Homo sapiens: one gene and its partners. The protein of the gene in region 1 interacts with the protein of each later gene in a pairwise test. Each region holds a gene or a part of one and is shown in the gene's direction. Other genes may lie near its edges.

Evidence for each region.
Region 2: the proteins of KDELR2 (region 1) and GRM1 come close enough for resonance energy transfer, tested with the Homo sapiens proteins (one large-scale study listed by BioGRID).
Region 3: the proteins of KDELR2 (region 1) and PDGFRA come close enough for resonance energy transfer, tested with the Homo sapiens proteins (one large-scale study listed by BioGRID).
Region 4: the proteins of KDELR2 (region 1) and TTYH2 come close enough for resonance energy transfer, tested with the Homo sapiens proteins (one large-scale study listed by BioGRID).

Annotation. Positions count from the first base shown.
Region 1 is NC_000007.14:6,468,587-6,476,120, reverse strand, and holds part of KDELR2 (ER lumen protein-retaining receptor 2), read left to right. Parts: intron 1-1,836; coding exon 1,837-1,937; intron 1,938-6,366; coding exon 6,367-6,525; intron 6,526-7,534. UniProt on the Homo sapiens protein: Membrane receptor that binds the K-D-E-L sequence motif in the C-terminal part of endoplasmic reticulum resident proteins and maintains their localization in that compartment by participating to their vesicle-mediated recycling back from the Golgi.
Region 2 is NC_000006.12:146,429,526-146,437,059, forward strand, and holds part of GRM1 (metabotropic glutamate receptor 1 isoform alpha precursor), read left to right. Parts: intron 1-4,346; coding exon 4,347-5,271; 3' UTR 5,272-7,534. UniProt on the Homo sapiens protein: G-protein coupled receptor for glutamate. Ligand binding causes a conformation change that triggers signaling via guanine nucleotide-binding proteins (G proteins) and modulates the activity of down-stream effectors.
Region 3 is NC_000004.12:54,276,321-54,283,854, forward strand, and holds part of PDGFRA (platelet-derived growth factor receptor alpha isoform 1 precursor), read left to right. Parts: intron 1-1,067; coding exon 1,068-1,172; intron 1,173-1,575; coding exon 1,576-1,686; intron 1,687-2,041; coding exon 2,042-2,195; intron 2,196-3,995; coding exon 3,996-4,162; intron 4,163-5,260; coding exon of another isoform or gene 5,261-5,361; exon of another isoform or gene 5,362-5,658; intron 5,659-7,534. UniProt on the Homo sapiens protein: Tyrosine-protein kinase that acts as a cell-surface receptor for PDGFA, PDGFB and PDGFC and plays an essential role in the regulation of embryonic development, cell proliferation, survival and chemotaxis.
Region 4 is NC_000017.11:74,252,728-74,260,261, forward strand, and holds part of TTYH2 (protein tweety homolog 2), read left to right. Parts: intron 1-353; coding exon 354-539; intron 540-1,027; coding exon 1,028-1,106; intron 1,107-7,401; coding exon 7,402-7,482; 3' UTR 7,483-7,534. UniProt on the Homo sapiens protein: Calcium-independent, swelling-dependent volume-regulated anion channel (VRAC-swell) which plays a pivotal role in the process of regulatory volume decrease (RVD) in the brain through the efflux of anions like chloride and organic osmolytes like glutamate.

The DNA of each region.
Region 1 (7,534 bases):
TGTTCATAAAATATTGAAAAACAACATGTAATACAAATATTAGCCAGGTGTGGTGGTGCACCCACCTGTAGTCCCAGCTACTCAGGAGGCTGAGGTGGGAGGATCACCTCAGCCCAGGGAGGTCAAAGGTGCAGTGGGCTGTACTTGTGCCACCGCACTCCAGCCTGGGCAACAGAGTGAGACCCAGTCTCAAAAAAAGAAAAGAAAAATAATGTGCTTTTCACGTTCCAGAGGAGTGTTGTGAATGATTTGGGTGAAGTGACTTTTCTGTTAAATTCATACTTACTAAAATGTGTAGTGGTGTGAAGTATGCATTATAGATGAGGGTGGGTGGGTTCTGACATTTAGTCAGCCTTCAGTTTCTTTAATGCATTTGCTCAGTCTCCAGCATCTGAAACCCATAGTTTGCGTCCTTTGTCACATAAATATTTGGCCAAATATAGATGTCAGAAAAGCTGTGTGCACACCACATAAATGTCCAGCCTTCCTGGCTGAGTGTGGCTGTGCCATGCAGTGCTCTGGAGGTGGGTTGGTGGTTGGAAGTGGAAACACAGTTTCAAGGCTTTAAAAAAGACAGCTGCTTTTGAAGACCAGCTGTAGTTGTGGGTTCATACCTTCATGTTGTCCTAGCATTCAGGAACATTTTTATACAAATACAATGGAATTTCTATTTTATTGTAATTAATTTATTTTTTGAGACAGGGTCTTGCTCTGTCACCCAGGCTAGAGTGCAGGGATGTGACCACAGCTCACTCAGCCTCAGCCTCCTGGAGTCACGCAATCCTCCCACCTCAACCTCCCATGTAGCTGGGACCACAGGTGTGTGCCACCTTGCCTGGCTATCACTTTTCTATTTTTCGTAGAGATGGAGTCTGGTCTCAAACTCCTGGGCTCAAGCGATTCTCCCGCCTTAGCCCCCCTATATGTGGAGATTATAGGCATGACCACTATGCCTAACTGAGAGGGAAGCTTTAAAAATCTTAACATATCCAAGTAATTGCCGCTCTTAGCAAAGAAGTCACCATGGGATGCGATGCCATTATTCCAGCGGGAGTTCCTGCCCAACTCTTACCTGAGTCGGTGCTTCTCATCTACTCCTCATCCCCCTTAATGACAGTAGACTCCATCTCCGTTCTCAAAAGATTTCTCACCATGGAGATACTGTTTTACCATACAAAGAAGGGACCAGGCGACATGGCTCATACCTGTAATGCCAACGCTTTGGGAAGCTGGGCCCAGGAGTTCAAGACCAGTGTGGGCAACATGGTGAACAAAAAATTTGTTTAAAAATTAGCTGGGTGTGGTAGTTCACACCTCTAGTCCCACCTACTCTGGAGGCCGAGGTGGGAAGATTGCTGAAGCCCAGGAGGTCAAGGCTACAGTGAGCTTGATCGTGCCTCTGCACTCCAGCCTGGGCAGCAGAGGGAGACCCTGTCTCAGGGGAAAACAAAAAAGAAAAATCTGAATGTAAGAGACAAGTTATAACACTAAATGACAGCAGAATTATTGAGAAATTTGTTCCTACTTAAGGTGATATATTTGAGAAGTAAAAGGTTCGTTTGAATGATACACATCCTGGCATAATAAAGCCCCTTTCCTGTGGTCGCCCTTTATAGTGAGACAGAAAAGCCTGTTAGAGCCTCCCAAAAGGAGCATGTTTGGGAATGGGAAGGGATAGAAAAACTACAACTGCTCTTGTTCATTCAGAGCCATCCCTAGACCTGGGCCTTGACCCCACGCACCCCTCCTTCCCTGTCTGCACTCCCTGCACAGTGTGATCCACAGGAATCCCAAAGCTCTTCAGGCCCTTCTAATACTTCCCTTCTGTTTCTCTAGGTATTTCTGGGAAAAGCCAGCTTCTGTTTGCACTGGTCTTCACAACTCGTTACCTGGATCTTTTTACTTCATTTATTTCATTGTATAACACATCTATGAAGGTATGGTATGCCATCCACAGGAATGTATTTCATCTACAGTGCACAGGTCTATGGACACTTAATTTATGTCAGCTGTGTATTTTTAATTAAAATGCTCCAAAAATAATGTCTTAATATGCTGTTCTTGACTTTAAAACTTTCAGACCACCTTGTATATATAACTGGGACTAAACGAGCTATCAGTAAGCATACATTTTTGGTTTCAAAACAGTAGTTAATTAAAATACTTTGAAGTTAGAACTTTTTTATTTTAGGTTCCTTAAGTATGATAAATCTAAAGCTCTTGATAACTCTGTAAGTAAGAGCGGTAACTATTATATTTTCAAGCCGTGGGAAATTACAGAGTCCCCAGAGAAATCCAGCAAGTTGGTACATAACAAGGAACGAAAGCAGGACTCCTAGTTGCAGTGTCTCATTTCGCTGCTGTGTGAGGAACTGTCTATAGGCTTCTATCTTTTTTCTTTGCCACTGAGTCAGTTTTACTTAAACTGTTGTGTGTGTGTCATTTTTATTACATTTGCCGTGCTTAAATGATCTCTATACCATCATTTACTTAGTAACGTATTTTTTTAAACCTTTCAACTTGTCCTAATTATTAGTATCTATAACACCTTTGTTGTCTTTCTTATATTTTTTCTAATTCACATTAAAACTAGTGTATAACTATTAAAATACAAAATGTTTGCACACCACCTAACACTTTGTGTAGCACTGGTGGCACACACCCCACACTGGGGGAAGTTGTGGACTACGTGAGCTTCAGTTCTTTCGCACAGTGTTGAATTCATGCTTGTGAACACCTACAGAGCTGGGAACTGAGGATGCGGCAGAAAATAAGCAGAAGTCTCTAGGCTGGTGTGGGAGAGTACACAGATCATGGCAGTACAAATGACTGCGATTTATGATGGGTGCCACAAAGGAAAAGTATAAGAGTTGCGAACCTATGGATATAAAAAACATGAAACAGGCCCAGTAGCTCCCGCCTGTAATCCCAGCACTTTGGGAGGCCAAGGTGGGTGGATTGCTTGAGCCAAGGAATCCGAGACCAGCCTGAGCAACATAGTTAGACCCCTGTCTCTAAAAAAAAAAAAAAAAAAAAAATACAAAAATTAGCCAGGCATGGTGGCATACTCCTGTAGTCCCAACTACTCAGGAGGGTAAGGTGGTAGGATCGCTTGAGCCCTGGAGGTTGAAGCTGCAGTGAGCCGTAATTGCACCACTGCCCTCCAGCCTGGCAGCCTGGGTGACAGAGCAGGATCCTGTCTGAAAAAAAAAAAAAAAAAAAAGAACAGGGGCTCTCAGGATATGTAATAGGAGTCTGATTTCTTTCTTTCTTTCCTTCTTTCTACAAATACTGAGCACCTGTGCACCAGGCACTATTCTAGGCCATTTGGTTATTAGCATACCCAAGGAAGTAATATTTCAACTGAATCCTATTGGTATGGCACCTAAACAACCTCCCCCCAACATTTTGTGTTCAAGAGCATTTTCATAAGCACTGTTGAAAGGAGACAAAGCAGTATGTGAGTCTGGTCTTTACTAAAAAGCAAATTTGAGTCACTTATAATGGATTCTTCATTACCAAATGATGGGAACCTAGTATTCAGGAAATAATGAGCTTACTTAAAAATGGTTAGGTCCCCACTTGTCTAGGCAAGTTAAAACTGCAGGCATTAGAGGTGTGTGAGCAAGAATCCTCTCTCCCCCTCAGGATGCCCAGGTTTCAGAGGAATCCATGCTTGCTTGGTTGTAGTTTCTAAGCACGATGTCCTGAAAGTCTGGCGTGAGACCCGAGGTGCTCGTGTCTTTTTACTTTAACTTCTGTGTGCTGGTGAGAGGAGAGAAGCAGCTGTTCTTCTCCAGGTGCTGCTAAGGCCTTAGTGGAAATAACGCCCATCAAGTTTTTATTAATGTTGAGCTGGCCACAGTCTAGGTCCTGGTGAGAGGCCTCTCTGCTGTGAGCCTTGGCTAGATGCGCTGAGGGGGCTCAGTGCATGTGTAGATGGATGTGTGTCTTGTTTATGCATGTAGATTTTGTTTTGTATTTATTCACATACATGGTGAGGAGATCGAGACCATCCTGGCCAACATGGTGAAACCCCATCTCTACTAAAAATTAGCTGGGTGTGGCGGCATGCGCCTGTAATCTCAGCTACTGGGGAGGCTGAGGCAGGAGAATTGCTTGAACCCGGGAAGCGGAGGTTGCAGTGAGCCGAGATTGCTCCACTGCACTCCAGCCTGGTGACAGAGCAAGGCTCCGTTTCAAAAAAAAAAAAAAAGTTAAACTTACACTTAACATATGACCCAGCAGTCCCACCCCTAAGTACATACCCAAGAGAAGTGAAAACTTACATTCACACAAACACTTGTACGCAAATGTTCACAGCAGCTTTATCCACTGTCCTCCCAAATTAGAAACCACCTGTCCTTCAACTGGTGAGTGAATAAACAAACTGGTGCATCCATACAATGGACCACCAATGGACGCAGCTATAAAAAGGAACAAATTATTAACACTAGGCCCTCACTTAATGTCATTGGTAGGTTCTTGAAGTGAAACAACACACACTGCAACTTGAAGTGAAACAACATACACTGAAGCCAGTTTTACCATAGGCTAATTGACATGAGTAAGAGTTAAGTTCCTACAGCATATTTCCGGTCCCCAAAACACCACCAGACTTTTAAATAAAGACCCAAAACAGGCCGGGTGCTGTGGCTCACGCCTGTAATCCCAGCACTTTGGGAAGCCGAGGCAGGCAGATCACCTGAGGTCAAGAGTTCGAGACCAGCCTGACCAACATGGAAACCCCGTCTCTACTACAAATATAAAAATTAGCTGGGCATGGTGGCAGGCGCTTGTAATCCCAGCTACTTGGGAGGTTGAGGCAGGAGAATCGCTTGAACCTGGGAGGCGGAGGTTGCAGTGAGCCGAGATTGTGCCACTGCACTCCAGCCTGGGCGACAGAGCGAGACTCCATCTCAAAAAAAAAAAAAAAAAAAAAAACCGAAACAAATGTGAGCTATACATTTATTTATTTATTTATTTATTTATTTTTTATTTTTTTTGAGACAGAGTCAGTCTGTCACCCAGGCTGGAGTGCAGTGGCGAGATCTCGGCACACTGCAAGCTCCGCCTCCTGGGTTCACACCATTCTCCTGCCTCAGCCTCCTGAGTAGCTGGAACTATAGGCACCCGCCACCACGCCCGGCTAATTTTTTGTATTTTTTTTAGTAGAGATAGGGTTTCACCATGTTAGCCAGGATGGTCTCGATCTCCTGACCTCATGATCCGCCTGCCTCGGCCTCCCAGAGTGCTAGGATTACAGGCGTGAGCCACCATGCCCAGCCAACATGAGCTATACATTTAAGAAAGATTAATAAAAGCAACATAATTATTTATCCAGTTTTTGGTGAATCCGTGCATGATGGTGGTCATAGTGGTGGCGGATTAAATCAAGAAGTATATGTTTACAAACAAAAATTATAAGGAGTACCTCCTACTACCATAAAGTTCAAAAACAAACAATAACAAATATAGCAGGCTCACTGAGTGCTTTTGTACTACATTGTTTATTGTGGTACATATGTATAATTATTGTATACTACTTTATGAATTATTTTACCATAGTTTGTATTCATTTTCCAACCCACTTACTTCATTTCAGGGTCCCAGGTGGCCAGAGCCTATCCCAGCAGCTCAGGTTCAAGGCGCGAACTTTCCCCCAACTGCATAGGATGCCATTCCATCACAGGGCGCGCTCACCCACACCCACTCACACTAGGACAGTTCACACATGCCAGTTCACCTAACTGGCATCGTTGAGATGTAAGAGGAAACCAGAGTATCTCTGGTGGGAGATTCTCCAAGAGTATCTCTTGGAGAAGACCCACGTGGACTCGGGGAGAGCATGCAAACGCCATGGATGGCGGCCCCAGCCGGGAACCAGTTTCTTTTCTCATCAGTGTTACAACCAAAGGATGTTATTGGCAGACCTGCTATACACACAATAAGTTTGGTTGCCTCTCAGATGCATTAGGCTAACTGAAATTGGACCCAGAAGGCAACATACTATGTGACTCCATTTATGTGGCTTTCTAGAAAAGGCAAAACTATGGACAGAGAACATAAGTGTGATTGCACTGCAGGAGGTGAAGGAAGCCTGGGGGAGTTTGACTGCGAAGCGGCAGCATGGCAGAATTTTGGGGATGATGGAACTATTCTGTGTCCTAATTTTGGTGGTGGTTATGCCTCAGAACTGAACACCTCCAAAAAAGAGAATTTTACTATATTTAAGTTTTAAAATTCCAAAAACAAAGCTAAGGAAAAAAATCTTGCCTTTCCAAATACATGGGTGATTAAAAAAGCTGGGGGGTGCTGGAACAGTGGCAAGGTATTGACACCTGGTGTTTTTTCTTTTATTTGTAGGTTATCTACCTTGCCTGCTCCTATGCCACAGTGTACCTGATCTACCTGAAATTTAAGGCAACCTACGATGGAAATCATGATACCTTCCGAGTGGAGTTTCTGGTGGTCCCTGTGGGAGGCCTCTCATTTTTAGTTAATCACGATTTCTCTCCTCTTGAGGTTAGTTTAAAAGGTTACTTAGGGCCAGGCATGGTGGCTCATGCCTGTAATCCCAGCATTTTGGGAGGCCGAGGCGGAGTTCAGCCTCCACTTTGGGTGGATCATGAGGTCAGGAGTTCGAGACCAGCCTGGCCAACATGGTGCAACACCGTCTCTACTAAAAATACAAAAAATTAGCTGGGTGTGGTGGCACGCACCTGTAATCTCAGTTACTCAGAAGGCTGAGGCAGGAGAATCACTTGAACCCAGGAGGCGGAGGCTGCAGTGAGCCGAGATCACGCCATTGTACTCCAGCCTGGGTGACAGAGCAAGACTGTCTCGAGGGAAAAGAAAAAAGAGGTTATGGCTGGGCGTAGTGGCTCACGCCTGTAATTCCAGCACTTTGGGAGGCCAAGGTGGGCACATCACGAGGTCAGGAGATCGAGACTATACTGGCTAACATGGTGAAACCCCGTCTGTACTAAAAAATAAAAAAAATTAGCTGGGCATGGTGGCGGGCACCTGTAGTCCCAGCTACTGGGGAGGCTGAGGCAGGAGAATGGCGTGAACCCGGGAGGTGGAGCTTGCAGTGAGCTGAGATTGTGCCACTACACTCCAGCCTGGGCGAGAGAGTAAGACTCCGTCTCTCAAAAAAAAAAAAGAGGTTATTTAGGTCTGGGCCTGGTGGCTCACCACACCTGTAATCACAGCATTTTGGGAGGCCGAGGTGGGCAGATCACTTGAGGTCAGAGGTTCAGGCATTCAGCCTGGCCAACATGGTGAAACCCTGTCTCTATTAGAAATACAAAAACTGGCCATGCGCAGTGGCTCACGCCTGTAATCCCAGCACTTTGGGAGGCTGAGGCAGGTGGGACACGAAGTCAAGGGATTGAGACCATCCAGCTAACACGGTGAAACCCCGTCTCTACTAAAAATACAAAAAACTAGCTGGGCGTGGTGGCGGGCGCCTGTAGTCCCAGTTACTTGGGAGGCTGAGGCAGGAGAATGGCGTGAACCTGGGAGGCGGAGC
Region 2 (7,534 bases), on another chromosome or scaffold:
AGACCTACTTCTCAAGCTGCACTAGGGTACCAGAGGGCTGACGAATGTGAAGTTGAAATATCTGGACAGCTGTATTTCCAGCATTCCTTTGGGAAAGTCTTGGTGGGGTCAGAACCTCCCCTTCCTTGACAGGCCTCATGTTCTAGCTGTAGCTGCGGGAGCCAGAGCAGAACTGTCCCGAAGTCTGTGCCTTTTTATCTTTTTTCTTGGTGAGCCAATTCCCTCCTTGCTGGGACTCAATGGTGTTTTCCGTTTCCATTTTCACTTTCAGAGAAAACAAATGCTACCCTCCTCAGGTTCCCAGGAGTGAGCCTCTCTTTCTTACGCGAAGGTCTTGCATTATCTGTGGGCTTTCTGGATACTGTCCTTGTATCTGTTGTGAAGCTATTAAGCCTAGAGGCAAAGACTTGATTTGGACATAAGAGAGACAGGTGTTGTGTAAGCTTCCCCTTCAGGCAGTTTGTGCAGGAGGCTTCCCTCCTGATGATCTCAAACACCCACCCACTGTTATTCCCATTTTAAACCTCTCTGGATCAGAGAACAGTGTACTCTGCAGATGTAACTAGTACTTACTGAAACAAATAAAACAGACAGGATCACTGAATGCCAAAGATACACTAATCTATTTACACCACCCACTCTCAACTATTCTCTAAAGTGCCGTAAATATTGGGTTTTCTGTTTGGGGGATTGCGATAGCTAACTAATGAAAGAAAAACCAAAGCAAGATCCCGAACCTGTTGTTGCTGGAACTGCAACCTCAGGCCTGCCTAGCTGTCCACACAGTAACTATACATTATCCTATACATCCTGTAGGCCTAACAGTGTTTTCCTCCAATTGAGCCACCTGAGATATTTACTCTAAATGCCTCTGCATTTGATCTTCAAATATAAGATTGATTTAGGCCTCAGGTCTGTCTTTTGAAGTCGGAGCAAAAGGTTCAGGTGCTTTGTAACAATTATGTGGTGTTTTCTAAACCAGATTGCTTTTCCTAAGATTAGGAAGCCAAATAAAATTAAACAATAGAAGGAAGAAGCTGGTGGCAGAAGCAGAAACGATTAAAGTTATCTGGGATTAAATAAATGTCATATTGCAGGATAATATTGCATTTTTATAATGTATTTATTCTTTCTTGATATAAATGGATTTGATTTTACATATTTTTCTCTTCTTAATATCACAGTAGTGGGTTCCCTGCCTTCTCAAATAAGATACTCTCTTTTCTCACCAAAACAGTTCTTAAGCCTTCACCTGAATCTATTATTACTAAATATACCTCTCTTCACGGCCATTTGAATACAGAACAAAACAAAAGCTTCCCAGAATTTAGTTACACATGTATTGAATAACACTCTTTATCATAACAGCATCTACATACATTTAAAAACAGCAGTGCATTGTCTACAAATACATAATATTTATTCAGTTTAAAAACAATGCTTAATGCAGGTATAGATGCATGGACCTTTCAGATTATCTATGGACCACAGGTAAGAAATGACTCATCTTGAAGAACTAAAGTTTGTACTCAGTGCTGCAATGTCTGTGAGATGATACATTCCTTCTACTATGTTTGATTTTTAAAAAGCAGTTTATTTTATCCTTGAAAAAAGATTACACTAATTTTCTTAATCTGATAAATGCCCTGAGGTGTGAGATCTGTTTCCTAATTAAAAGTACTTTACAGCAAATCTAGAGCAAGACTGAGGGGAACGAAAGTTACCAGTTTTGAAGGCCATAGTGAAAATGTCCCATCTCAACAATAAAAATTGGATTTAATTAAAACAGAACTAAATTCTGATTATATCTGTCTGCAACATGATTAATAATACTGTTAACTTATGGGTGCTTTTGATTTAAAAAGAGGCCCACATAGAACCTGTGGACAATGAGGAAAACAGCCCATGTGAATGAGTGGGTGAAGTGGATCACATTAGGGCTTTCAGGAAACAAGGTACCTTTTTGCTATTATGTGTAGAAACTAAGGCAATGTGTCATTGGAACAGCTAAGCCTGCTGGTTGAATTAGAGGCAGATTATTTCTCAAGGGACCTGTTTGTTGTTGTTGTTGTTGTTGTTTTAACACACACACACACACAACTAAATAGATACAGGATAACATTTTGTTTAAGCATTTTCCTGGTGAACATTAAAAAGGCATTTCCTAATGCCTATGAAGAAGTGGGAAGATGGGGAAGGAAACATTTTTTTCATTGCAATTTAAAATGATGCAAATTATTGAGTTGGATGCTATATATAGTAAGGCATACTTAAGGAGGGTAAGAGGCAAATAAGTTTTATATTTGCCTTTCTAGAAGAGGCATATTGAATGCATAAAAAAAACAAAGTGTGTATAGTGGTAGATGATGGGGCAGTTGAAAAAGATTAAGTGGAAGATGAGTTTACCTACAGTTTTAAGCTCAGAAGAGCAACTGTGGATTCTGGTGGTGATTCTGGCTAGCTGGTTGACTACCTGTTCTTGCCAGGGACACCACTGACCTGTTCTTTAGTTTGTTTACCTCAGAAAAGAGTCAGCTATTCCAACAAGATAGTGTGGAAGTCAATAAGACAATTTTTAAAAACTTTACAAGCACTTCCACAGTCTCAGATAATGTGTAAGGCATATATTTGAAAGAAATATTAACTTTGACATAACAGAGATGAGCTTTGTCTTAGACAATTAAAAATGCAGTGTAGGGTATCAGATATATGGAGGAACTACCTATTTCTCAAATAATCAGGTCAAAACTTTAACTGTTTTATCTATTTTAGAGCCTTTATATCCAGAATTTTCTATAATCAATATCAGACATTTACACTCATCTGTACTTATCTGGCTCACTTTACTTTTCAAGATTATAAAATATGAAATGTCAAAATATTACCTTCATCATAAATGATGCTCACATATAATTTTTGAAGTATTCGTTCTTGTATTCTCAAGATGATGAAATAAACCATTATTTAAACTACTGATCATTTCCTACATTTTTTCCAAACAAAAACTAGAATATGGATTAGTCTATTTCACACCTCCACTTAAAGAAAAAAATGTCCATTTTTATATTCCTTTTAATGTCATAAATGTGTTACTATTATGCTACTTTCTCTGTCATTTTACTGAGTACAGAGAAAAAGCAAACTTCTAAAAAAAGAAAAGAAACAATTATTTCCTGATTTAAGGATTCCACCGTTGTTATTAGTAGAAGGCTATGGTAAGGTACCAACATCTGCTTAAAGTTATACAGAAAAGAAGCTGAGTCCAGAAGTGAGATCAGAGTTATTACAATAGACAGAACAGAATTTGGGGTGTAGGCCACAGTACATCTTCTTATTTTCTTATTCAGGGAGAAATTCCATATGGCTGCTTTTCTGTGGGTGCCATGAAGATGGGAGTTGATAAGGCTGGGATGCTCCTGGCACCCTAAGACTCTTCTTCACCAAGGCTCAATGAGTAGAGGTTTTCGTCTCAGTAACTGCTGCTTTGTCTCAATCATAATTTTCTCTTATTTGCATCAAACTATCCTAAAGCAGGATGTGGGCATTTGTATTTTTCCTGGCTTCCTCATTCTATTGCTTTTCAAATACAGCTATTTCAATGTTCCTAGAGTGAAAATCCCAAACCAGCTTCTGTGAGTCAGGGCCTTTGTGTGAATTGTGATCCACTGTATGTGTGAGAAATAATGCATTGAAATGTTTTAAAAAAATCAAAAGCTATGAAGCTCATAAATTGACCATGAGTCTGAGTTTTTCTGTCATCTGCTTTTTTATGTTCCTTATAGGTACCCTGTGTGATCACGCCACCCTGGTCATGGGAAATACTTGCATATGAGAATGGGCAACTGAGAGGATCTATTTTATAATCCCACAACACAACGAGAGTAGCTTTGTATGTGGGTCCTAATTTGTCCCAAGGACAATAGCCATTATTTTGGTTGTCCATGTGTAACTAAGATTTTTTTTTTAAAGTTTTCCTCCATCAGTTGGGAGTTTTTCAAAAGTGTGTGTGTGTGTGTGTGTGTGTGTGTGTGTGTCAGAGAGAGACAGAGGGAGAGGGAGAGAGTGCAACGGAGAAAAAAGAGAGGTTTGTGAAATCTTAGACCTAAATGAAAATAGCTATTTCTACAACAGACTGGCTTTTCTCCTCAACAACTTTTCTCAGGGTCAATATTTCCTTCAGCTTTTGGTGTTCTTTTTGTAAGAGGAGGTATGGGGTGCTGGAGCAAAGGCCTACAGCAGAGACAGCAGTTAAATCACACTGAGCTAGGTTTGCATATGTTTTCTATGTATTTTATCCTGTGTGCATGATCTATCTGCAAATAAATCCATCTCTATTTTATTCATAGTTCTAATGGCAAGTCTGTGTCATGGTCTGAACCAGGTGGAGGACAGGTGCCCAAGGGACAGCATATGTGGCACCGCCTCTCTGTGCACGTGAAGACCAATGAGACGGCCTGCAACCAAACAGCCGTCATCAAGCCCCTCACTAAAAGTTACCAAGGCTCTGGCAAGAGCCTGACCTTTTCAGATACCAGCACCAAGACCCTTTACAACGTAGAGGAGGAGGAGGATGCCCAGCCGATTCGCTTTAGCCCGCCTGGTAGCCCTTCCATGGTGGTGCACAGGCGCGTGCCAAGCGCGGCGACCACTCCGCCTCTGCCGTCCCACCTGACCGCAGAGGAGACCCCCCTCTTCCTGGCCGAACCAGCCCTCCCCAAGGGCTTGCCCCCTCCTCTCCAGCAGCAGCAGCAACCCCCTCCACAGCAGAAATCGCTGATGGACCAGCTCCAGGGAGTGGTCAGCAACTTCAGTACCGCGATCCCGGATTTTCACGCGGTGCTGGCAGGCCCCGGTGGTCCCGGGAACGGGCTGCGGTCCCTGTACCCGCCCCCGCCACCTCCGCAGCACCTGCAGATGCTGCCGCTGCAGCTGAGCACCTTTGGGGAGGAGCTGGTCTCCCCGCCCGCGGACGACGACGACGACAGCGAGAGGTTTAAGCTCCTCCAGGAGTACGTGTATGAGCACGAGCGGGAAGGGAACACGGAAGAAGACGAACTGGAAGAGGAGGAGGAGGACCTGCAGGCGGCCAGCAAACTGACCCCGGATGATTCGCCTGCGCTGACGCCTCCGTCGCCTTTCCGCGACTCGGTGGCCTCGGGCAGCTCGGTGCCCAGCTCCCCCGTGTCCGAGTCGGTGCTCTGCACCCCTCCCAACGTATCCTACGCCTCTGTCATTCTGCGGGACTACAAGCAAAGCTCTTCCACCCTGTAAGGGGGAAGGGTCCACATAGAAAAGCAAGACAAGCCAGAGATCTCCCACACCTCCAGAGATGTGCAAACAGCTGGGAGGAAAAGCCTGGGAGTGGGGGGCCTCGTCGGGAGGACAGGAGACCGCTGCTGCTGCTGCCGCTACTGCTGCTGCTGCCTTAAGTAGGAAGAGAGGGAAGGACACCAAGCAAAAAATGTTCCAGGCCAGGATTCGGATTCTTGAATTACTCGAAGCCTTCTCTGGGAAGAAAGGGAATTCTGACAAAGCACAATTCCATATGGTATGTAACTTTTATCACAAATCAAATAGTGACATCACAAACATAATGTCCTCTTTTGCACAATTGTGCATAGATATATATATGCCCACACACACTGGGCCATGCTTGCCAAGGAACAGCCCACGTGGACATGCCAGTCGGATCATGAGTTCACCTGATGGCATTCGGAGTGAGCTGGTGGAGCCAGACAGAGCAGGTGCGGGGAAGGGAAGGGCCCAGGCCAGACCCATCCCAAACGGATGATGGGATGATGGGACAGCAGCTCCTTGCTCAGAAGCCCTTCTCCCCGCTGGGCTGACAGACTCCTCATCTTCAGGAGACTCAGGAATGGAGCGGCACAGGGGTCTCTCTTCATCCACTGCAACCCATCCAGTGCCAGCTTTGAGATTGCACTTGAAGAAAGGTGCATGGACCCCCTGCTGCTCTGCAGATTCCCTTTATTTAGGAAAACAGGAATAAGAGCAAAATTATCACCAAAAAGTGCTTCATCAGGCGTGCTACAGGAGGAAGGAGCTAGAAATAGAACAATCCATCAGCATGAGACTTTGAAAAAAAAACACATGATCAGCTTCTCATGTTCCATATTCACTTATTGGCGATTTGGGGAAAAGGCCGGAACAAGAGATTGTTACGAGAGTGGCAGAAACCCTTTTGTAGATTGACTTGTGTTTGTGCCAAGCGGGCTTTCCATTGACCTTCAGTTAAAGAACAAACCATGTGACAAAATTGTTACCTTCCACTTACTGTAGCAAATAATACCTACAAGTTGAACTTCTAAGATGCGTATATGTACAATTTGGTGCCATTATTTCTCCTACGTATTAGAGAAACAAATCCATCTTTGAATCTAATGGTGTACTCATAGCAACTATTACTGGTTTAAATGACAAATAATTCTATCCTATTGTCACTGAAGTCCTTGTAACTAGCGAGTGAATGTGTTCCTGTGTCCTTGTATATGTGCGATCGTAAAATTTGTGCAATGTAATGTCAAATTGACTGGTCAATGTCAACCTAGTAGTCAATCTAACTGCAATTAGAAATTGTCTTTTGAATATACTATATATATTTTTTATGTTCCAATAATGTTTTGTACATCATTGTCATCAATATCTACAGAAGCTCTTTGACGGTTTGAATACTATGGCTCAAGGTTTTCATATGCAGCTCGGATGGACATTTTTCTTCTAAGATGGAACTTATTTTTCAGATATTTTCTGATGTGGAGATATGTTATTAATGAAGTGGTTTGAAAATTTGTTATATTAAAAGTGCACAAAAACTGAGAGTGAAAATAAAAGGTACATTTTATAAGCTTGCACACATTATTAACACATAAGATTGAACAAAGCATTTAGATTATTCCAGGTTATATCATTTTTTTAAAGATTTTCCACAGCTACTTGAGTGTCTAACATACAGTAACATCTAACTCAGCTAATAATTTGTAAAATCTTTATCAATCACATTTTGCCTTCTTTTAATTTTTATGTTCATGGACTTTTATTCCTGTGTCTTGGCTGTCATAACTTTTTATTTCTGCTATTTGCTGTTGTGTAATATCCATGGACATGTAATCCACTTACTCCATCTTTACAATCCCTTTTTACCACCAATAAAAGGATTTTTCTTGCTGTTTTGATTTCTTCTATTATTTGTGGAATGAATTATACCCCCCTTAAATATCTTTGTTTATGCCTTATGTTCAGTCATATTTTAATATGCTTCCTTCATATTGAAGCTGCTGATTTCTCAGCCAAAAATCATCTTAGAATCTTTAAATATCCATTGCATCATTTGTTCAGAATTTAACATCCATTCCAATGTTGGAGGCTTGTATTACTTATATTTCATCATATTCTATTGCCAAGTTTAGTCAGTTCCACACCAAGAATGAACTGCATTTCCTTTAAAAATTATTTTAAAACACCTTTATTGAAAAGATCTCATGACTGAGATGTGGACTTTGGTTCCATGTTTTCATTG
Region 3 (7,534 bases), on another chromosome or scaffold:
AGACACTGATTCGAGTAATAGTAGTAATAGTAGAATAGGTCTCCCGTACAGCTGGCTCTGTGTGAATTAAACCCTTTTTCTATTGCAATTCCCCTGTCTTGGTAAATCGGCTCTGTCTAGGCAGCGGACAAGGAGAATCCATGGGGCGGTTATAAGAGCTGCCCCCCAATTTCAAATATTTATATCTAAGCTTTCTTTATTTTCCTGCCTATTTCCCAACAAGGGATGAGGAGCTTAGGGAGTTAAAAAGTAGTAAAATATGGGGAAAAGGGCATAATTCCCATTATACCAAGAGGCATTGCTGGTGAAGCAATACCTTTCCAGGTACGATTTTCAGTAACACAGACGTGCAGTAAGAGGCAGTGTTGGCTGTTAGTGTCTTTTATGAGCCAAGTCTTTTCCTGGCTTGGCTATCCGTGGTGAGACTGACACCCCGGGAAATGTTTCTCTCAGGGTGAGCTCTTTCAGGGTGGGACAACAGCTTCAGTGTCTTTACGTATGTCTCCTCCCAACATGAAGCTAATTGCTGTGCTCTCGGGCATGTTTAGCTCTTGGTAGAGTGGCTTTCCTAACAAATAGGGAGCAGTGAGCCCAGCCTGAAGTTTTTATTTAGTCACTCCTTAGAATCAGTGATATTTTGAATACTGAAGTATTTCCAGTGGCTAGTAATTTACTAAGACAAAAGATGCCCCTGTTTGCATATGGAAAACAGAAGGGGAGAGAGCCAGGAGGTGTGGGTGAGAGCCCCGAAGGCAAGAGGATCCCAGGGGCTGGCCCAGCACGGAGCTGGTAGACAGCGCGCTCACACCAGGGAGGGCTGCACCCTCCTTTCTCCCGTCTGTGTTTTCTTTCCCTTGCAAGTGTTATTCGACAAAAGCAATTATGCTAATTTCCTTCCCTGTGGGCTCAATTCCTTTTTTGACACGATGACTTGGAGGAGTCATTATGATTACTCCAAACAGGAAAGACACTCGCCCAGCTGTCCGCCCGCAGAGAGCTGGCTACGGTGCAGAAAGCTGAGGAGGCGTCTGGAGTTTTTGGGTGTTAATGATTCTGCCTGCCCACAGGTCGGGTCTTGGGGTCTGGAGCGTTTGGGAAGGTGGTTGAAGGAACAGCCTATGGATTAAGCCGGTCCCAACCTGTCATGAAAGTTGCAGTGAAGATGCTAAAACGTAAGTGCTCCTTCCTGGGGATTTTTTGAGCACGGGGATTTTTTGAGCATGGGGATATTAAGGGAATTTCTCAAAATCATGCAGCTAGTAAATAAGACATTTAGGACTAGGTCCTGATTATTTTGACTCCAGGTTTTATGTGTATTTAGATTAGGTTTATTTAGATTGCTCTTGCTGCCTGTATGTTGGAAAATTAAGAGCTTGTTATTTCCAGTGACTTCTTTTTACTAGAAAGACCAGGAATTAGTTATTAGCACTGAGGCCAAGTAGCTATCTGCTTCTTTTAGACTTCTGGTAAATAGAATGATATCCAATCACAGGATTAGTCATATTCTTGGTTTTTTTCTGAGAACAGGAAGTTGGTAGCTCAGCTGGACTGATATGTGATTTATTCTTTCAACAGCCACGGCCAGATCCAGTGAAAAACAAGCTCTCATGTCTGAACTGAAGATAATGACTCACCTGGGGCCACATTTGAACATTGTAAACTTGCTGGGAGCCTGCACCAAGTCAGGTGGGCTCACTGACCTGGAGTGAGGATTTTCACTGGACACATGTGGTTGTGAAAACTGTTCAATCAGGCTTAAATCCTCCACTCTCCATCCCCACACATGGCAGGGAATAGAAGTCCCTTGAATGGAGCTGACTGGTCCCTTGAATTGATGGAAGCTCATTGGTTTTTGAGCAAAATCTGTTGCCAGTCCAGTCATAGCCATTCATGGCTCTTTATTAAAAAAAAAAAAAAAAAAAAAAAAAAAAAACTTTTTTGGTATCTTATTTTTTTCTGTGCCATATGGTCTGCAGGACAATTCATGGCTTTTCTGTTCTTCATTTTCATACCCATCTCCTAACGGCTTTTGTCCCCATAGGCCCCATTTACATCATCACAGAGTATTGCTTCTATGGAGATTTGGTCAACTATTTGCATAAGAATAGGGATAGCTTCCTGAGCCACCACCCAGAGAAGCCAAAGAAAGAGCTGGATATCTTTGGATTGAACCCTGCTGATGAAAGCACACGGAGGTGGGTGCAAAGAGAGATGTTGCTGTCTATCATTATCTTACAGGCATCACAAATGGAAAGACCCATGTCCTGATAGATATCATGTCTGCAGATTCAGTGCCCAAGGTAGCAAGACTTAGAGTCAAACCACCCTGTCCAGTCTTTCCATGGTCATGCAGAGAGATGCATGATGTCTAAAGGTGTTTTGGACTGGGGTGTCACATGGGAAGGCCTTGCTGATAGGTTTGAATGAGAGTGAGTTAGAATGACTCTGGGAGCTCTTCTGCTATTTACATGTGATCCACTTAGACCTATAAAATGCAGCTCTGGCCAGGGATGCTTGAGTTCTGGAACCTTGCAAGAACTGTCTGTGGATCTCCAAGCTCGAGGTCCTTGCTGAACCTGGACCTATAAATGACGTCAATGATAGTGATCCCTACTGCAGAAATCTACAAGTGGCTATAAAGAACTCTGTAGGTAAGAAATTCTGTAAGATCAGAAAGTACAATGAATTCACTTCATAATAAATTACTTGGTGGACACCAAATGGGTGCTAAATTGATTGGGTAGAAGGAATTGTATGCCCAAGCCACATGGCCACACGGCTCAAGTTCCAACCAAGGCTTGTGAGTTGAAAAACTGAGAAAGAATAATGACAGACTTAACGTAGTGAATTCTTCAAACTTTAAGTGTAATGGACTTACAGGTCCATGGGAGCACAGCCCCACTGTCTTAGATGTGGCTCTTCAGGATGTGCGGGCTCCTGCTAAGGATGTGCAGGGAACTGGCTCTGAAAACAAGTGAACAGTAGTCATCATGGCAGCTGACATTTGTGGAGTCCTTTGTATGTGCCAGGTGCCATGACAAATATTCCGCTAGTCTTTCCCATCTTTGTCAGTGGGATCCATTCTACGTCTTCTGAAAAGTGCTTCCTTGACCCCCAGATCAAGTCATTTTCCTTACAAGCTATTGAAACCTTTCTTCCTTCACAACACAGCTGAGTTTGAGTTGATCTGTGTATTTATTTTGTTTTTTACATTTCTTTTTTTCCCTATTTAAAAAATTTTTTTATTTCCATAGGTTTTTGGGGAACAAGTGGTATTTGGTTACATGAGTAAATTCTTCAGTGGTGATTTGTGAGATTTTGGTGCACCCATCACTGGAGCAGTATACACTGAACCCAGTTTGTAGTCTTTTATCCCTCACCTGCCTCTCAATTTTTCCCCGAGTCCCCAAGTCCATTGTGTCATTCTTATGCCTTTGCATCCTCATAGCTTAGCTCTCACTTATGAGTGAGAACGTACGATGTTTGGTTTCCATTTCTGAGTTACTTCACTTAGAATAATAGTCTCTAATCCCATCCAGGTTGCTGCAAAAGCCATTAATTCATTCCTTTTTATAGCTGAGTTACATATATATATATATATATGCACACCTACACATACATATGTATAGATACACTGCAGTTTCTTTATCCACTCCTTGATTGATGGGCATTTGGGGTTGGTTCCACATTTTTTCAATATGTGAATTGTGCTGCTATAAACATGTGTGTGCAAGTATCTTTTTAGTATGACTTCCTTTCCTCTGGTAGATACCCAGTAGTGGAATTGCTGTGATGCATGTATTTGTGCGACTATTTGATTAATGCTCATTTCCTTGACTAGATCACCTCATGTGAAAGGTATGGATTGGTTTTGCTTTTACCCAGTTAGCTCCCATGCCTACCTCAGTACCTGGCACATAATCATCATCTACTGAAAGTGGAATGACCACTTCAGAAGGGCACCCTGGGTAAGATTTCTCTTTCTGTTTTTACAGCTATGTTATTTTATCTTTTGAAAACAATGGTGACTACATGGACATGAAGCAGGCTGATACTACACAGTATGTCCCCATGCTAGAAAGGAAAGAGGTTTCTAAATATTCCGACATCCAGAGATCACTCTATGATCGTCCAGCCTCATATAAGAAGAAATCTATGTTAGGTAAAAGTGTCTATACTCACTCTGGGTGTTGGGACTTTCCAGTGGTTTAATATGATACTTAAAGTATTTAGAGGGAAGTGTATAGGGATGGTAAGTGAACCTGGCAGCCCACGTGGTCTCTAAATGCAGGTCTGCACAACCAGTTCTGTGACATGTTTCCAGGTTTGTGGCCTGTAAATTGAAAAGAATAAAAGCTGACAATGTAACAAATTTTTTAAACTTTAAATTTAATAGTTTTAAAGAATTTTCTTGGTGTGTTCCTGCAGTAAACATTTTTTAAAAAAAATAATTATTTATTCTGATATAATGAACTTCCTTTTTTATTGCTGTCTTTTTCTTTTTTAATGAAAATATGGTGATTGATTTTTTTTAATGCCCTTACTTGGCAGAATTACAAGTTGGCTGTCTTATGTTGGTTCCTCACCTTGCTTTTTTTCCCTTAAGTTTTAGAAGTCTCTGATGTCTATGAGTTCAGTAACCCTTGCTTTTACTTTTCCTAACATTCAATTTGTGATAGGAACTCTAGAGTAGATAATTTGCAGTTATATTTTCTGGACCAGTGTTTCTGTTGAATGTATTTTGAAGGTGGGTCTATCTGTTTTTCAAGTACATGAATATGTGGCAGGGTTAAATTGATTTATAAACTCCAGGGAGTCCAGCTGATGCCCAGACCAGATGGATCACTTCACATCTGCTCAGGGTGGTTCCTCCAGAGCCCTGAACTGGTCACAGACATGAAGCTGGAAGTCTGACATTGGCTTGTCCTGTGAGCTTGCCTTTTTGGGTCTGAGCCTTCCCATTAGTCAATGCAAAAAAGTGTTGAGCTGCCCTGGACATTGTTTTGGAAATTATTGATGTGCTCTGAATGTTTTCAGGTTCTTAAGTGAAAGGTACAATCCATTTAAAAAAGAATGTGTTTGTTTTGCAAAGCTCAGTACACAATATTTTCCATTTCTGCGGTTCCAAGTTCCATTCACTTCTCATTGCCAAATGGGTGAACTTCCAAGCGCTTTTAAAAGATTAGCCAGTGAGAGTTATCGGAACCAGTACTTCCTCTCCCCTCCCATATTGTTAAAAATAGTTTACATTGCTTCCCAGGCTGGGCTGGTGGAGTTGGCACGAGATGTCAGAGGAACCTGAGTCATGCTCAGGCCCAAGCCCTGTTGGCAGGCAGACCACTGCTTTCTGGCCTTCCGTGACTATCTGAAAAAAATCGTGAATGGCTAGAGCTACTCTTCACTTGCTGAACATTTTCAAAAAGAATTGAGAACTTCTGGATTAAATTGCCTTCTTCCTCGAAAACCCTGGGACCCTTCCAGATGGGACTAACTGGGGAAAGTGGACAAGTTACAAACAAAGAAACTCAAAGGAAAGTCATTGGCACTGATCTCTAAGATGCTATCACATGTGATTGGTGGTTGATTTTATTAACAAATTATAAGCAAAGTACTACAAAGGTGGCTTTAAAAAGAAAATAAAGCAATTCACAGAAACTACTTTTTCATGTAGCTTGTATGTGTGCTCCATGTATTTCATCATGGAAGATTTTAGTGTGTGTTTATGTGTATGTGTGTTTTAAAGGTAGCTGAGATGATTTGCTAATTATGGTTGAAAAAAAGAAATTTAGGAGGTAAACAAAATAATTATGTGTAAGATTGGTCCTTGTGGCTGTGTGTGTGTTTTGTGTGTGCGTGTATGTCTCTGTGTGTTTTAGGCTGTTCTTTTATTGCTATAAATAAATACTTGAGACTGGGTAATTTATAAGGGAAAGAGGTTTAATTAGTTCATGATTCTGCAGGCTTTACAGGAATCAAGATACTGGTAGATCTGCTCAGTTTTTGGAGAGGCCTCATGAAGCCATGAAGTCATGGCAGAAGGCAAAGCAGTGCAGGCACATCACATGGCCAGAGCAAGAGCAAGCGAGAGAGAGAAAGAGAGAGGTGCCACACACTTCTAAACAGTCAGATCTTACAAGAAGTCACTTACTATTGCGAGGACAGCACCAGAAGGATGGTGCTAAATTGTTCGTAAGAAATCTGTCCCCATGATCCATTCATCTGCCACCAGTCCCCACCTCCAATACTGGAGATTACAATTCAACATGAGATTTGGGTGGGGACACATATTCAAACTATATCATACTGACCCTGGACCCTCCCAAATCTCATGTCCTTCTCACATTTCAAAATACAATCATCCCTCCACAATAGTCCCCTCAAGCCTTAACTCATTCCAGCATCAACTCAAAGTCCAAAGTCTTATCTGACACAAGGCAGGTCCCTTCCACCTATGAGCCTGTAAAATAAAGAACAAGTTATTTACTTTCAAGATACAATGGGGTTATAGGCATTGGGTCAACATTCCCATTCCCAAAGGGAGAAATCGGCCAAAAGAAAGGGGCTACAAGCCCCACAGAAGTTCAGAACCCAGCAGGGCTGAAAACTCCAAATAAACTCCATTGACTCCATATCCCATGTCCAGAGCACACTGATGCAAGGGGTGGAGCTCTTGGGAGGGATGGAACACCCTGTGGCTTTGCAGGGTTTAGCCCCTGCAGCTGCTCTCAGGGGCTGTTGTCGAGTGCCTGTGGTTTTTCCTGGTGCAGAGTGCAGGCTGTTGGTGGATATATTATTCATGGAGGATGGTGGCCCTCCCCTCGTAGCTTCACGAGGCAGTGCCCCAGTGGAGACTCTGTGTGGGGACTTCAACCCCACATTTCCCCTCTGCAGTGCCCTAGTAGAGGTTCTCTGTGAGGGCTCCAATCCTGCAGCATGCTTCTGTCTGGACACCCTGGTTTTTTAATATATCCTCCGAAATCTAGGCAGAGGCTCCCAAGCCTCAACTCTTAACACTCTGTGCACCCACAGGCTAACACCACATGGAAGCGGCCAAGGTTTATGGCTGTCACAAGCTGAAGCAGCAGCCCAAGCTGCACCTGAACTCCTTTGAGCCACAGCTGGAGCTGGAGTCATAGGGATGCAGGGAGCAGTGTCTCGAGGCTGCACAGGGCAGTGGACCCTGGGGCTGGCCCATGAGACCATTCTTCCCTCCTAGGCCTCTGGGCCTGTGATGGGAGGGGCTGCCATGAAGGTGTCTGAAATGCCTTAAAGGCCTTTTTCCCATTGTTTTGGCAATCAGCCTTTGCCTCCTTTTTAGTTATGCAAATTTCTCTAGCAAGTGGTTGCCCAGCAGCCCTCTTTAATTCTCTCCCAAAAAAGCTTTTACTTTCTCTGTCACATGGCCAAGCTACAAATTTTCCAACCTTTTATGCTCTGCTTCCCTTTTACTTTTTTTTTATTTTAAAGAGATGGGGTCTCACTATGTTGTCCAGGCTAGTTTGAACTCTTGGACTCAAGCAATCCTCTCACTCAT
Region 4 (7,534 bases), on another chromosome or scaffold:
GGATACATGGGGTCACTGTTTTCAGGGAGCCTGCAGTCCCCTTGAGGAGATGGGCAGGGACACATGGTGTACAGGCACCTGGTGAGCGGATTAGGCAAGAGGACGCAGGGTAGTGGGGACCCACATGCGCATGGTCAGCGTGGTGGGGAGCCTGGAAGAGCTGGTCGTGAAGCTGGGAATGGGCCAGAATGATCTGCAGGAGGCAGGCTGGGGACCGCGTTTTAGAGGAGTCTCAAGGAGACACGCGTGGCCAGAGAGTCCTGGGAGGAAAGGCAGGGAAGTAGGACAGGACCTGGCTGCCTCGGAGCCTCCTTCACCCTTCACAGCCGGCCATCTTCTACCCATTGTTCTAGAAACAGAGACTACGATGACATTGATGATGATGACCCCTTTAACCCCCAAGCCTGGCGCATGGCGGCTCACAGTCCCCCGAGGGGACAGCTTCACAGCTTCTGCAGCTACAGCAGTGGCCTGGGAAGTCAGACCAGCCTGCAGCCCCCGGCCCAGACCATCTCCAACGCCCCTGTCTCCGAGTACATGTACGGCCTGCACACACACCCAGGCTGGGTAGCACTGCCCGGACAGCATGTTGGGTGGGGTCCACAGTGCCGGGTGTGGGGAGGAAGGCATCCAAGGCCACCCGTGGTCCCCACTACAGCCACAGGGTGCCTGGAGGGAAGGCCCCCGGGGAGCATCTAGTCACCCCTCCACACCCACATGTGCTGGGGGAAGAAACCACTGATGTCAGCAGCCTCTGCCACAAGCTGGTGGGACAGGTCTCAGGCCCAAAAAGCTGCATTTCTCCAGGCCATGCTGCTCCCAGCCTCCGTTGCCCATCAGCCACTTGTCCCCAGGCTTCCCAAGGTGCTCTTCTCCATATCTGCCCACTGCACCCCCTCCACTCTATCTGTGGTTTGGTTCCATCCCCCACCTCCCATGTGCTCACCCATGGGACCCTCCTGTAGAAATCTACACACACCCCCACTCCCACACCATCCCCTCCTGAGCTCTCCTCTCATCCCCGCAGGAACCAAGCCATGCTCTTTGGTAGGAACCCACGCTACGAGAACGTGCCACTAATCGGGAGAGCCTCCCCTCCGCCTACGGTAATTGGGGCTCTGGCCCTTCCTTGTTGGGGTAATACATAAAGACAAAACCTCCTGCCAACCCAGTGAATCCTGTCCACAAAGGCAGAAAAGAATGAAACTGTTCTGTTATTGAATATGCACTAAACCAGACCGTCGTGGGTATCCCAGGCAGTCCGCTAAGGAGATTGCAAAGATGCAAGAAATCTCACTCCTTCCCCTAGCCAGGCAGGAACAAGACACAGCCCACTGCATACCTGTCATCCAGCAAGAGGACTTGACGGCACTGTTTGTCACAGTAGTCCACCTTAATCCACTTGCTAATTGGGGTGGCCATCCTGGTTAAGTAATTGCCTTTATTTATTTATTTATTTATTTTTTGAGGCAGAATCTCACTCTATTGCCCAGGCTGGGGTGCAGTGGCGCAATATCGGCTTACTGCAACCCAGGTTTCAAGCAATTATCCTGCCTCAGCCTCCCAAGTAGGTGGGACTACAGGTGCGTGCCACAACGCCAGGCTAATTTTTGTATTTTTAGTAGAGATGGGGTTTCTCCATGATGGCCAGGCTGGTCTCAAACTTCTGACCTCAGGTGATCCACCCGCCTCGGCCTCCCAAAGTGCTGGGATTACAGGCATGAGCCACCGCGCCCGGCCAGCTAATTGCCTTTATCCAGAGGAAAAATAAAACTCCTATTTCCGTGACAATCAGATAGCTACAACTTGGAGCCAGGCCCCTAAGTGAACTGTCACTGAGAAGGAGATGAGGTGCTGTCTTCCTGATGTTTGTACTTCCAAGAGATGGCTCCCAGACCTGAAAAAACCATACCTGGATTGTAACACTGGCAAGGGCCATATTCAGCCTTTAAGAAGGTTTGCAGACATCTCAAAAGACAGAAATTATTTACAATGATAAGTTTTCTAAAGGAAATACTGCAAGAAGAGAGGGGGTCTCTTTCCCTTTTTGCTCCAGAGAAAATTAAGGAATTTTTTTTCTTTTTAGATTTCTGTTTACCTTAATCCTTGGTCTCTTTTGGGCTGGACGGTGGGTTGGCTGTGGTGGCGGGTCTGGGAGGGCTGAACCCAAACACAGCCTTCCTCAATCCGTCTCAGCTCCCCATGTCCCTAGGACTGTGCCCAAGTAGGGCCAGTGCCTCTTGTCCACCCCACCACCTCCAGCCAGAGTACCTGAGATACAGCCTCAGGGGAGTAGCTCAGGGTGGGCAGGTTGAGAAGGAAAGACTATGCTGTCTCATCCCAGAGAAGTATCCAAAGGACACAGAAATACTGGCTGAGACAAAGAAAGCTGTAAACAGACAGTGAAGTGACCGCCAAGGTTCAGGGACACGGACTCCAGTGCCAAAGGCCTGGGTTCAAATCCCAGCTCATGGCTTATGGCCTCTGTGACTTTGGACAAGCACTTTGCTGCTCTGTGCCTCAGTTTCCCCATCTATAGAATGAGTATGGGAATACTAGCACATTCCTCCTCGGTGGTGTGTGCAATGGGCAAATTGATTGTTATCAGAGCGTACGTGCGAAGCATCCAGTGAGTGCCGTAGGACAGTGAGCTGTTATTTGTGACTTTCTTCCACCCCACCTTCTCCACAGAGCTGTGGCATTTATCAATTTTATTTTATTTTTTATTTTTTATTTTTTTTTGAGACGGAGTCTCACTCTTCTGCCCAGGCTGGAGTGCAGTGATGTCATCTCAGCTCACTACAACCTCCACCTCCCAGGTTCAAGTGATTCTCCTGCCTCAGCCTCCCTACTAGCTGGGATTACAGGCATGCACCACCACACCTGGCTAATTTTTGTATTTTTAGCAGAGACAGGGCTGGCTGGTCTTGAACTCCTGACCTCAGGTGATCCACCCATCTTGGCCTCCCAAAGTGCTGGGATTACAGGCATGAGCCACCGTGCCCGGCCAGAGCTGTGGCATTTATAAGAAAGGACAAGGGGAATGAAAGGCCAGAAGTCTGCCATGGGGTGGGCAGAAGGGTCCTGGAGCCAGGCATCTCCCTTCATTGGGCCTGGCGAGGCATTTCAGTGCCCCGACCCAGATAGTTTGGAAGGGGACATCCAACAGGAAAGCAGAAGCACTGGGGCCCAAATACCTGGGACCAGCGTGATAGACCTGGGCCCTGAGGACCCAGGAAGTGCACGCACAGGCACCCAGGGAGTCAGCTTCCCGGTCATGGCGCTTGGTGAAAATCATAGTGTCAGACCCGAGAAAAGAGCAAGTGGAACCCAGTCCCTGTCTTCAGGAAGTTCCAGTCTATAGAAGGGGCACTCAAGAAGGCTGCCTGTAGAAAGTGCTACAAGGTACTTTGGGACCAGAAAGAAGGAGCCATCTTTGCTGCTGCTCTAGGGGATTCCAGAAGGTTCTATTTAATAGGTGGCGTTTGAGCCACAGTGTAGAGCAGGGGCTCACCCAGGGGCAGTTTTCCCCCCTGGGGACATTTGGCAATGTCTGGAGGCATTTTCATTACCACGCTTGGAGGCTGGGGATGGGGGCTGGATGCTATTGACATCTAGGGAGTGGAGCACCCACCACAAAGCACGGTGCAGCCCCAAATGCCCATAGGTTATGGGGCCTGTCCTCTGCGTGTGGGATGTTCAGCAGCATCCCTGGCCTCTACCTGCTAGCAAGCCTGCTGGAACCAATCCCCCTGTCATTCACTCCTGTGCCACCACCTTGGTGCTTTTGCCTGGAGCACCTCACCTGCTGTCCCATCCCACAGCTTTACAAACACAAGCCCCAGCCTCATGTCGTTCTTTCTTCCTGGGGTCCCCGGGAGTGGGCTGGTTGAACCTGTATTCAAAGTCAGCACCATTTATTATTTATGTTTATTTTTTTGAGACAGAGTATCACTCTGTGACCTAGGCTGGAGTACGTGGTGCAATCTCAGCTCACTGCATCCTCCACCTCCTGAGTTCAAGCAATTCTCATGCCTCAGCCTCCCAAGTACTTGGGACTATAGGCACGTGCCATCACACCCAGCTAATCTTTGCATTTTCAGTAGAGACGGGGTTTCGCCATGCAGGCCAGGCTAGTCTCTAACTCCTGGCCTCAAGTGATGCACCTGCCTTGGCCTCCCAAAGTGCTGGGGTTACAGGCATGAGCCACCACGCCCAGCCTAAAAGTCAGCACCTTTTAAATGCCAGCCTAGCTTCTCTCACTAATCAGAAGCCTCCCGGGTTCCTTTTTCCAACCACCAGCTGCCGTGGCCCCAGGAATGCAGATTGACTTTAATATTAATCTAAGCACAACGTAATTAGGGGAAATCTGCTGTGAAAAAAGAATTACTCTATGCACTGTGATGCCAAATAAAAATGATTTTCAGATTCCCTTCTGTTTGAAAGATCCAGGCCACTCATCCTGCCGTTAGCAGAGATAATCAGCAACTGACCTTATTTGCAAGGCTCAAGGACAGAAAACCCTTCCTCCCTAGATTTAAGACCTGCCCAGAAACACTTATTGCTTTGGCCAAGTTGACTGCCCAGTCCCACCTAGCCCAGCCTGCCCTGGGAAGACCCTTCCACCTCCATGCCCGGTAAGGGACCTAGAGAGACATCTAATGATGCCGCAGACCAAGGAACCCCACAGCATGGAGGGTGTGGGTGTCTGCCCCAGTAAAGACAGCACAGCTGGCTGCGCCCCACCCTCCCCGGGGCGCCTGCTCTAAACACTCCTTAGCACCGAGCAAGTTCGAGAGGTGGATAAACTCCTCCCTCTGCCGAGCACCCTCTCTGGGACAGTCAGGGGACCTCACTGGGTGGGTGATGTCACGCCTGGTGATCGGGATATACAGCCTGTCCCTTGCTGGAAATGTTTCTTCCCCCAGCTCTGCCTTCAAGGAATAATCTCTCCTGTCCTTTTAGGCACTGTTTCTTGGACTTGATGAACAAAAATGACCCAGGGCAGTTAAAGATACTGACGTTGAGACTTCTCTTCAGACTTACAGAAACAGAATATCTTGGGGAAGGAGCCTGGGAGATTCTAAGTTTAACAAACTTATTATCATTCAAGTTGGGAAATATTGCTTTAAGAAGGAGGGTCTTGGCCAGCACCATGCCTCATGCCTGTAATCCCAGCACTTTGGGAGGCCAAGGCAGGTGGATCACTTGAGGCCAGGAGCTCGAGACCAGCCTGGTCAACATGGTGAAACCCCGTCTCTACTAAAAATACAAAAATTAGCTGGGCATGGTGATGGGTGCCTGTAATCCCACCTACTCGGGAGGCTGAGGCAGGAGAATCACTTGAACCCAGGAGGCGGAGGTTGTAGTGAGCTGAGATTGCACCACTGCACTCCAGCCTGGGTGACAGAGTGAGATTCTGTCTCAAAGAAAATAAAAAAGAAGAAGGAGGGTCTCATACTTGCGTATGCATCAGAATCGCCTGAGGGACCCACCCTGTTTCTGATTCAGAAAATCTGAGTTGGAGCCTGGAGATGTGCCTTTTTTGTTTTTTTGAGACTGAGTTTCACTCTTGTTGCCCAGGCTGGAGTGCAGTGGCATAATCTCGGCTCACTGCAACCTCCGCTCCCCAGGACCAAGCGATTCTCCTGCCTCAGCCTCCTGAGTAGCTGAGATTACAGGCCCCCACCACCACGCCCAGCTGACTTTTTGTATTTTTAGTAGAGACAGGGTTTCACCATGTTGGCCAGGCTGGTCTTGAACTCCTGAGCTCTGGTGATCCACCTGTCTCGGCTTCCCAAAGTGCTGGGATTACAGGTGTGAGCCACCGTGCCTGGCCGGAGATGTGCGTGTCTGACATATTCCTAGGTAAAGCTGCTGCTGCTGCCCTGGAAACCACGCTTGGAGAACCACTGCTCTGAGGCCAGCTTCTTCAGCCTCAGTGCTATTGATGGGCAGCGTCATTCTCGGTGGGGGGTTCCTGTACATTGTAGGACGTCTAGCAGCATCCCTGGCATCTACTTGCTACATGCCAGTGGCAGCCCAGTGCCCAGTTGTGACAACCAGAATATCTCCAGACATTGCCTAATGCCCCTGGGAGGTAAAAACATCCCTGGTTGAGACCCACTGGGTCGAAAACCTCATGCTCCCTCCTCCCCAACCCCAGCCCAAGTGGAAGCATTCCATTCCCCCTGATGTGAATGGCCTGGACCCCTGAAGCTTCCCGGGTCAGGAGAGTGGCAGTTTCTGGAAGCTTGTTAGAAGTGCAGAATCTCAGGTCCTGTGGACAAGATCCCCAGGTAGCCTGTGTGCAGGGTATAGAGTGAAAGGCCCTCTCCACTGCCAAGGACGAGTAACTAAGTTCTGTCAGGCACCTACTCTGTACTGGGTCATGCTCCTCCAACTTGAATGCACACTGGAATTGCCTAAAGAGCTCTAAAAACACTGATAGCTCTTTAAATTCATTTTATGTTATGTGTGTGGTCTTTGTTTTTTTTTAAGAGAGAGGGTCTCGCTCCGTTGCCCAGGGTGAAGTGCAGTGGTGTGATCTTAGCTTGCTGCAACCTCCACCTCTTGGGCTCAAGTACCTTCTCCTCCTGCCTCAGCCTCCCAAGTGGCTGGGACTACAGGTGCATGCCACCATGCCCAGCTAATTTTTTGTATTTTTGATAGAGACAGGATTTTGCCATTTTGCCCAGGCTGGTCTCGAACTCCTGGGCTCAAACGATCCTCCTGCCTCTGTCTCCTAAAGTGCTGGGATTACAGGTATGAATCACCACCGTTATGTGCATTTTGCATCAACAAAAATATACATATTTATATACTAGTGGATGTGGCCTGGGCATCGGGATGTTTTTAGGCTCCCCAGGTGTTTCTGGCGAGCAGCCCAGTTTGAGAGCAGCTGTGTTATTAAGGCTCTTCCCTGCTCCATATCATTTCGCCCTTTCAACGTAAGAGCTGGGTGCTCTTATGTCCATTTTGCAGGTAGGGAAACTGAGGCTAGAAAAGGCTGGAGAACCTAAGCCAAGGTCACGGGGTAAGATGCACAGCTGGGATTTGAACCTGCTTCTCTGAGTCTCTGGGCCTCTGCCCTCAGCCTGCTGGCTGCTGACTGCTCCTCCGTGCGCTGGTGGACCCTGACGCTGCCCCCAGTGTGAGGGGACAGGCTGGATGCTGGGGGTGTGTGCTGGGGCGGAGTGGACATTGGAGGACAGCTGGTCTGTGTGTGCATTTTTTATTTGAGGCTGGGAGGCAGAAGTCTTGATGGATGTGGGGTGGAGGCACGGCCGGGTTTCCCTCTGACACCCGACCCAGTTCCACTCTGAGAAGTCCCCGGCACCTTTGCTGGTGCAGTGCTTGGCTGACTCAGCTCTGACCATCCCCTCTCTTCTCTCTTGGCAGTACTCTCCCAGCATGAGAGCCACCTACCTGTCTGTGGCGGATGAGCACCTGAGGCACTACGGGAATCAGTTTCCAGCCTAACAGACTTTCGGGGGTTCCTGCCTCCTTTTTCCGTTCTGGTTTTTAATTAGTG